Regions from separate parts of the Homo sapiens genome. Here region 2 is linked to region 1. The links come from fine-mapping of genetic effects on gene expression. Tissue or cell type: blood mononuclear cells. Region 1 holds a variant in brackets; the other region holds the start of a gene. All regions are shown on one strand. Distances are between the middles of the regions.

The links.
Region 2: TBC1D5 starts here. The variant in region 1 is fine-mapped to the expression of TBC1D5 in blood mononuclear cells (TOPMed, PIP above 0.99). The same link has a PIP of 0.9 or more in T cells and whole blood.

Annotation. Positions count from the first base shown.
Region 1 is chr3:17,604,655-17,607,569 of GRCh38, reverse strand. All of the region lies in intron 2 of TBC1D5 (TBC1 domain family member 5), which reads left to right. Among named protein-coding and RNA genes, the nearest start is that of TBC1D5, 140 kb to the left of the region's middle. The variant C/T (reference allele first, on the strand shown) is at 1,406.
Region 2 is chr3:17,741,036-17,743,950 of GRCh38, reverse strand. It overlaps TBC1D5 (TBC1 domain family member 5), which reads left to right and starts at 1,320. Exons shown (of 23, transcript NM_001349074.2): 1 at 1,320-1,470. LOC105376975 (a long non-coding RNA gene) reads right to left here and starts at 1,007. Exons shown (of 2, transcript NR_135536.1): 1 at 833-1,007. RefSeq lists enhancers at 904-973, 931-1,634 and silencers at 1,094-1,403, 1,634-1,833.

The DNA of each region.
Region 1 (2,915 bases):
ACTGAAGCTTTTTTTTTTTTTTCTTTAAGCTCAACCTTGATTTGTTTCCTTCGCAATCTCTGAGAACTGCAGGTTTCAAATACAAAAAGAAAATAACATTTATAGTTAGATCCAGGTGTATTAAGTTACCAGAATGAGGACAGAAAGATTGATAATTTGGATTCAAATTTATGTTGAGTTGGAAGTAAAAGCTGGAGGGAGACTGCAAGCTACCACAGGTCATTATATAAAGCTCTAAAAAGGATTTTATTCCAATTTTATTCACTGCTATATAAGGATATTTTTGTTAATTTTTTTTTGCTGTACACATTAGATATTATTGAGAAAATATTTTAAACTGCAATTTGTATTGATGGATTGTATTACGTTCATCTAATACTACCTTTAATTTCTTGTACATAATGAAGGTTTAACAATTATTTTTGGTAAATGGTCATCTGAGTTTTTAGATCATCTTTATTCTATGAGATGTTATCTGCATACTACTTTCAAAGGAGATATTCTGGAAAATCACTGATTTTAATCTAATAGTTACAGCAGATATATATATCTGGTTAGTTTAAACCATGGCTAATTATTCTCTTTGGTAAAATCGAACTAATTATTGTAAAGGAATTTGATTAAGCCATTTCTTATCATTTTTTTCCTCTCATTATGTTGCAAGACCTATCTTGAGCTGGGATTTTCTGTCTTATCTGAAGCTGTTGGTGTGCATCAGGATCGTTTTTTGGGAGTTTTGATATTATTTACTGGCTTTTGGTTATTTGTTGTTGTTGTTGTTGTTTTTCAGTATAGAAATGACCTCTTTGTCAAAGTGTATAATTTGATCCTAACAAAACAATTTTAAAAACCCATGAACTGAACCTTGTAAAGGTTTAATATTATAAAATGCTATATTTAAGTTTTCTCTCCTGAAGGATATTCTCTCATATTTAATTATATTGAATTAAGCATTTCTTATGCTGCTAATTTTTATTTATATATTCTAAAAATTGTTATAAAAAGTCACCAGTATCATTATTACTTTTCTTTTGCATTATCATTAATTACACTATTCTTGCTTTATATATATTACAGATAGCCAAAGGTTTGAGTAAAAGAAAATAAAAATACTTTCTTTTTTTGGACGGGGTTTCACTCTGTTGCCCAGACTGGAGTGCAGTGCAATCACCGCTCACTGCAGCCTCGCATTCCTGGGTTCAAGCAATCCTCCCAATCCTCCCAGCAGCCTCCTGAATAGCTGGAACCCCAGGCGCATGCCACCATGGATGGCTAATTTTTTAATTTTTTTGTGGAGCTGGTGTCACTCTATGTTGCCCAGGCTAGCCTTGAACTCCCTGGGCTCAAGCGATCCTCCCTCCTTGGCTTCCCAACGTGCCTGATATCACAGGCATGAGCCACTGTA[C/T]GCAGCCCTAAAATACTTGTGGTGAAAATATTTTTGGTAAAAATTAGACTCTTCTCAGGAGCTTCTGATTGACTTTATCAGGAGAAGGGGAGGTGTGGGCAGTAGAGTAGTCATGAAATGAGAGACCTACTTTATTTGCGTTCTAGTCTATCACAATTTAGACAGGCCAACTTGCAAAATAAATGTGTCTAGAACTAGAGAGCAAGCTTAAATGATTTATTGATTTTTTTCAGAGTATAATACAGAAGTCAGTAATTTGGTGAATGGGTCTTCATCTTTGTATGAAAAAGTCTATTCAATATTATGAAAACATTTATTACACATAACATAAATATAATTTCTGTATTGCATTATTGGATATTAACAAAGTCTTTATTTCCCCCTTAAACTTAGAAGTCTCATAATATTTGTCGGTCACAATTGAGCATGTTAATATATATGTGTTAATATTTACTGGTATGCTTCCTAAAAATGAAGCATACTTTCCTGATCTTTAATCATAGAAGTAGATAAAATGAAGCTTAGGTGAACTTTGTTTTCCTGCATGATCAAATTTTCTGGTTACTAAAAAAGACTATCCTTTTCCTCTTTTTAAATATTTGTTCCTACTGCCCAAACTCTTTCAAACACAATTTAACGTTTGTGGGATGATTAAATTTGCACTTTAAGTTCTGAAAATCACAGGTGCTGCTGAGCAGCATTCTAGTTGCTAAAAATGCCAGGTTGAACTAGACATTTTTATTACATGTAATTCAACACATTACTTATGACTGAGTTCAGCTAAGATTTGAGGTCCTGAAAAATTGTAGGGTTTTCTGATGTATATGGTCTCTAGGGTATTATAAATTTGCTTGTGTTTGTTTTAATTGTGTGGTTTAGTAAAAGTAGTTAATACTATGTGACTAATACTTATTGTGGCTTAGGAGCTTGACTCCTTTAAAAAAAAACCATGTTGATGAGTCACTCATTCATGCAAAGACAACCTGAGATTGGTGATTGTATGAGTTGGAGAAGGCTTGTCTGTTAGGAAATGCAGCCTAGCTGCTTTGTGAAGAGGAGGTTTTGCTCCAAAGAGAGTTGTTTTTTGTTGAAGAACATTATCCCAGAAGAGAACTGTACCAATGTAAAGATGGATATTTTGGGGATATGGAAGCCTGAGACTAAGTTGAATTCAAAATATCATGGATCTGGCTGGGTGCGGTGGTTCACACGTGCAATCCCAGCACTTTGGGAGGCTGAGGCAGGTGGATCGCTTGAGGCCCGGAGTTGGAGTCCAGCCTGGCCAACATGGTGAAACCCTGTCTCTACTAAAAATACCAAAAATTACCTGGGTGTGGTGGTATGCACCTGTAGTCCCAGGAACTCAGGAGGCTGAGGCATGAGAATTGCTTGAACCCTGGAAGTGGAGGTTGCAGTGAGCACTGAGGTTGCAGTGAGCACTGGGCAACACAGCCAGACTCTGTCTCAAAACCAAACCAAAAAATCATGGTTCTTAGCAAATTGATGGTGA
Region 2 (2,915 bases), 140 kb before region 1:
TTGCTAGCCCCATTTCTTGACTATCATCTCAGTATTCACCAGTCTAACAGTGATGATGACTGGTCTAGCCAGAACTCCCAATTAGGGAGTTTTTACATTTTATTTATTTGATAAATAAATAAATCTGGCCGGATTAAATCTGGCCACAGGCACTAACTTAACCTGTTCAGTTTCTGCAACAGAAAGAGGGGCAACAGAAAAAGAGGGATCTCTGTGTGAAGTGGGGTGTTTGTCCACAAAGGTCTCCCACACAGGCATCTTCCTCTGAAGCTAGATAACCTTCAGAAATCTGACCTTTCTCTGACTTGGTTTCCTTTTCTGGACTAAACAGTATCAATTTTCGTTGGAGCTCTTTGTGAAGATAAGCTAATAAAATACCATAAATCTCTTTTACTAAGTGAAGCATTTACCACTCTAATTAACATTATGATTTAAAGGCTTTCATACTGGGGAAACAAACACCACCTTCCCACGTGCTTGGGTTAAAGGGGATCTTAAATCATGATTATGCAGAGACCAAGGGCAACGATAAAAGTTTTAGACATTCCCTGTGTTCTGATAGTCATCAGACGTTTAGGGAGATACTACAACACTGAAGACCCTGTCCAAGTTTATGAGATAAAGATAGAAACCACAGTCTAGTATTGTGGGCTTGTGAAAAAATAACTCCTAACCTTTATCTTTCTATGGGTTGTACTACAAGGTAGGTCTGCACAAAGTGCTAGTGACTCCTCTAAAGTAGGCAGGGGTAAGTTTCACGGAGAAAGTGACAGATGAGCTGAGTTAGAAGCCTACTCAGCCACAGAAAAATGTGGCATGGAAGGCCATTTACCTGTGACAAGGAAATGTAAATTCCTTGGCAGGAGAGCCAGGATCTCAGGAGAGTCCCTGGGACCCTCTGCTCCCCTTCTCAGTCCAACCCTGGGAAGATAGTTGGTGGATGTGAACCTCTGACTAAGACCCAGGAGCTGGTTCCCAGCCTCCAGCCGCGCGCCGGTTGGAAGCAGGGAGAGAAGGGAGGGGTAAAAGCCCTCAGGCGCATGCGCTCAGCAGCCTGCCGGCTCAGCCAAGGAGAGCTCTGCCCGCGGCTCACTCCCCACCTACTCGCTTCTCGCGCCTCGCGGGCCCCAGAAACCCGGACCCGAGAGCGAGCGCGTTGCGCTCGCGCGCAGACTTCAGGTCCCGTGCGGGCGCCTGCGCACGAGCTTCCCAGGCGCGCGGGCCGCGAGGTTATTAGAGGTGGAGCGCGGGGAGGGCGCGCGGCGGGAGGCGGCCGCCGTTACGGCGCGAGCGTGGTCACGTGGCCGCTGGTCACCGCCGCCACCCCCTCCCGCCCTGTTCTCTTTCAGGTCGGGCCGGGCCCGGCCGCTTCCGCGAGCGCCCTGCAGACTGAGGGAGAGAGAGAGAAAGAGGAGGGGAGGAGGAGGAGGATTCAGGGAATAGGAGCTGGGGAGCCCTTCTGCGCCACAGGTAAAATAAAATAATGATGATGATCGTAAAAAAGCCCAAGCCCTCTGAACGCCTCCGCCTTCCTCCAGTGCAGCCCCACATGCAGTCGTTCCCGCCCCGGCCTCCCACTCAGCCTCAGGACAGGTTTCGCCCCCCTTCGCGCCGCTGCTGCAGCCGCAGCCGCCGCCGCCTTCTCACGGGAGGGCCTGAGGGTGCCGCCGCCACGGCGGACGGGTTGCCGCACCGCCCCCCGTTTGTGCGCCTCGGAGTCGGCGTCGGGGGTGGATGGCGGGAGGGGTGGACCCTTCAGCTCCCTGGCGGGCAGGGCGGGCAGGGCGAGCTGGGCGGGGTGGCTGCTTGCAGTCTGCCTGCTTTCCCTGCCCCAGGAGGTCGGGGTCTAGACTGGAAGGCCAACTGCAGTAAAGGCAGGGCCTGGCGGCTGGACTAGTGCTCAACTTCCTACTTAGTAAATTTCCATGTTCATTTGGGCCCCGGGAAGCACGCTTCCTTCCCTAGCCGGAAGCGAAACGGGCCCTGAATCCTCAAACCTTAATAGTCTTTAGAAGAGAGAAGCCTTGACTTCACTTTTGAGGAAGGGAACCGTGACCTGGATTTAGTACGACTTAAGTTTATTCACACGTAAGAAACGGAGGTCTTTCAGGATAAGAGCAAAAAAAAAAAAAAAAAAAAAAAAAAAAAAATTCGCAGGGAGGGCAAATCCCGCTCCCCACCCCGACTTTTCCTGGAAAAACACACAGACCTTCACTACAAGATTCGATTCTACAAGTGACCTAGAATTTGTTCGATACCAGTTACTCGTTTTAGTTACAGGAATTATAATCTGTGTTTAAAGTTAACATCCTGTAGGTTTTTTTCGAATAATAACTTTCTGGAAAGAGTTCATTTGTCAACTCTGAATTGGACAAAATCCTAAGATTTTAACATGCAGGTTTCACACGTTTGGACCAGGTTGCCTGGAATTTCTAGACCCGGTAATTCTTTTGTAAACCTTTATAAGTGTTGTGCTCTTGCACAAAATACTTAAAGCAGGAAGCAATAAATAGGTATTGTTGAAAAATGAGCCTTTGCTATCGGTGGCAAAGAAATTCATTTATATATTGGTTTTTCTCTTTGGGCTTTTCTGATTCCGTGTCTTGGTACTTTTCATACCATATCTCTGAATTCATTTGTAAACTTGAGCATTTTTAATTTTTACAGCTATCTGCAGTATCACAGAACACTCAAACCTTAATGTGGGTGGGAATCACTTGGGGCTCTTATTAAAAATGCATTTTCTGGTTCAGTAGGCCTATGGTGCATTTTGATATTGTACATTTCTGATAACATGTGCAGCTGGACAAGGGACTATCTTTGAGTAGCAAGGAAGTGGATAACTTGTGTGCAAATAAATAAAGTGTTGTATTTATCAATAAACATGTTCTTTTTAATAACTCACCCCCGGGTGT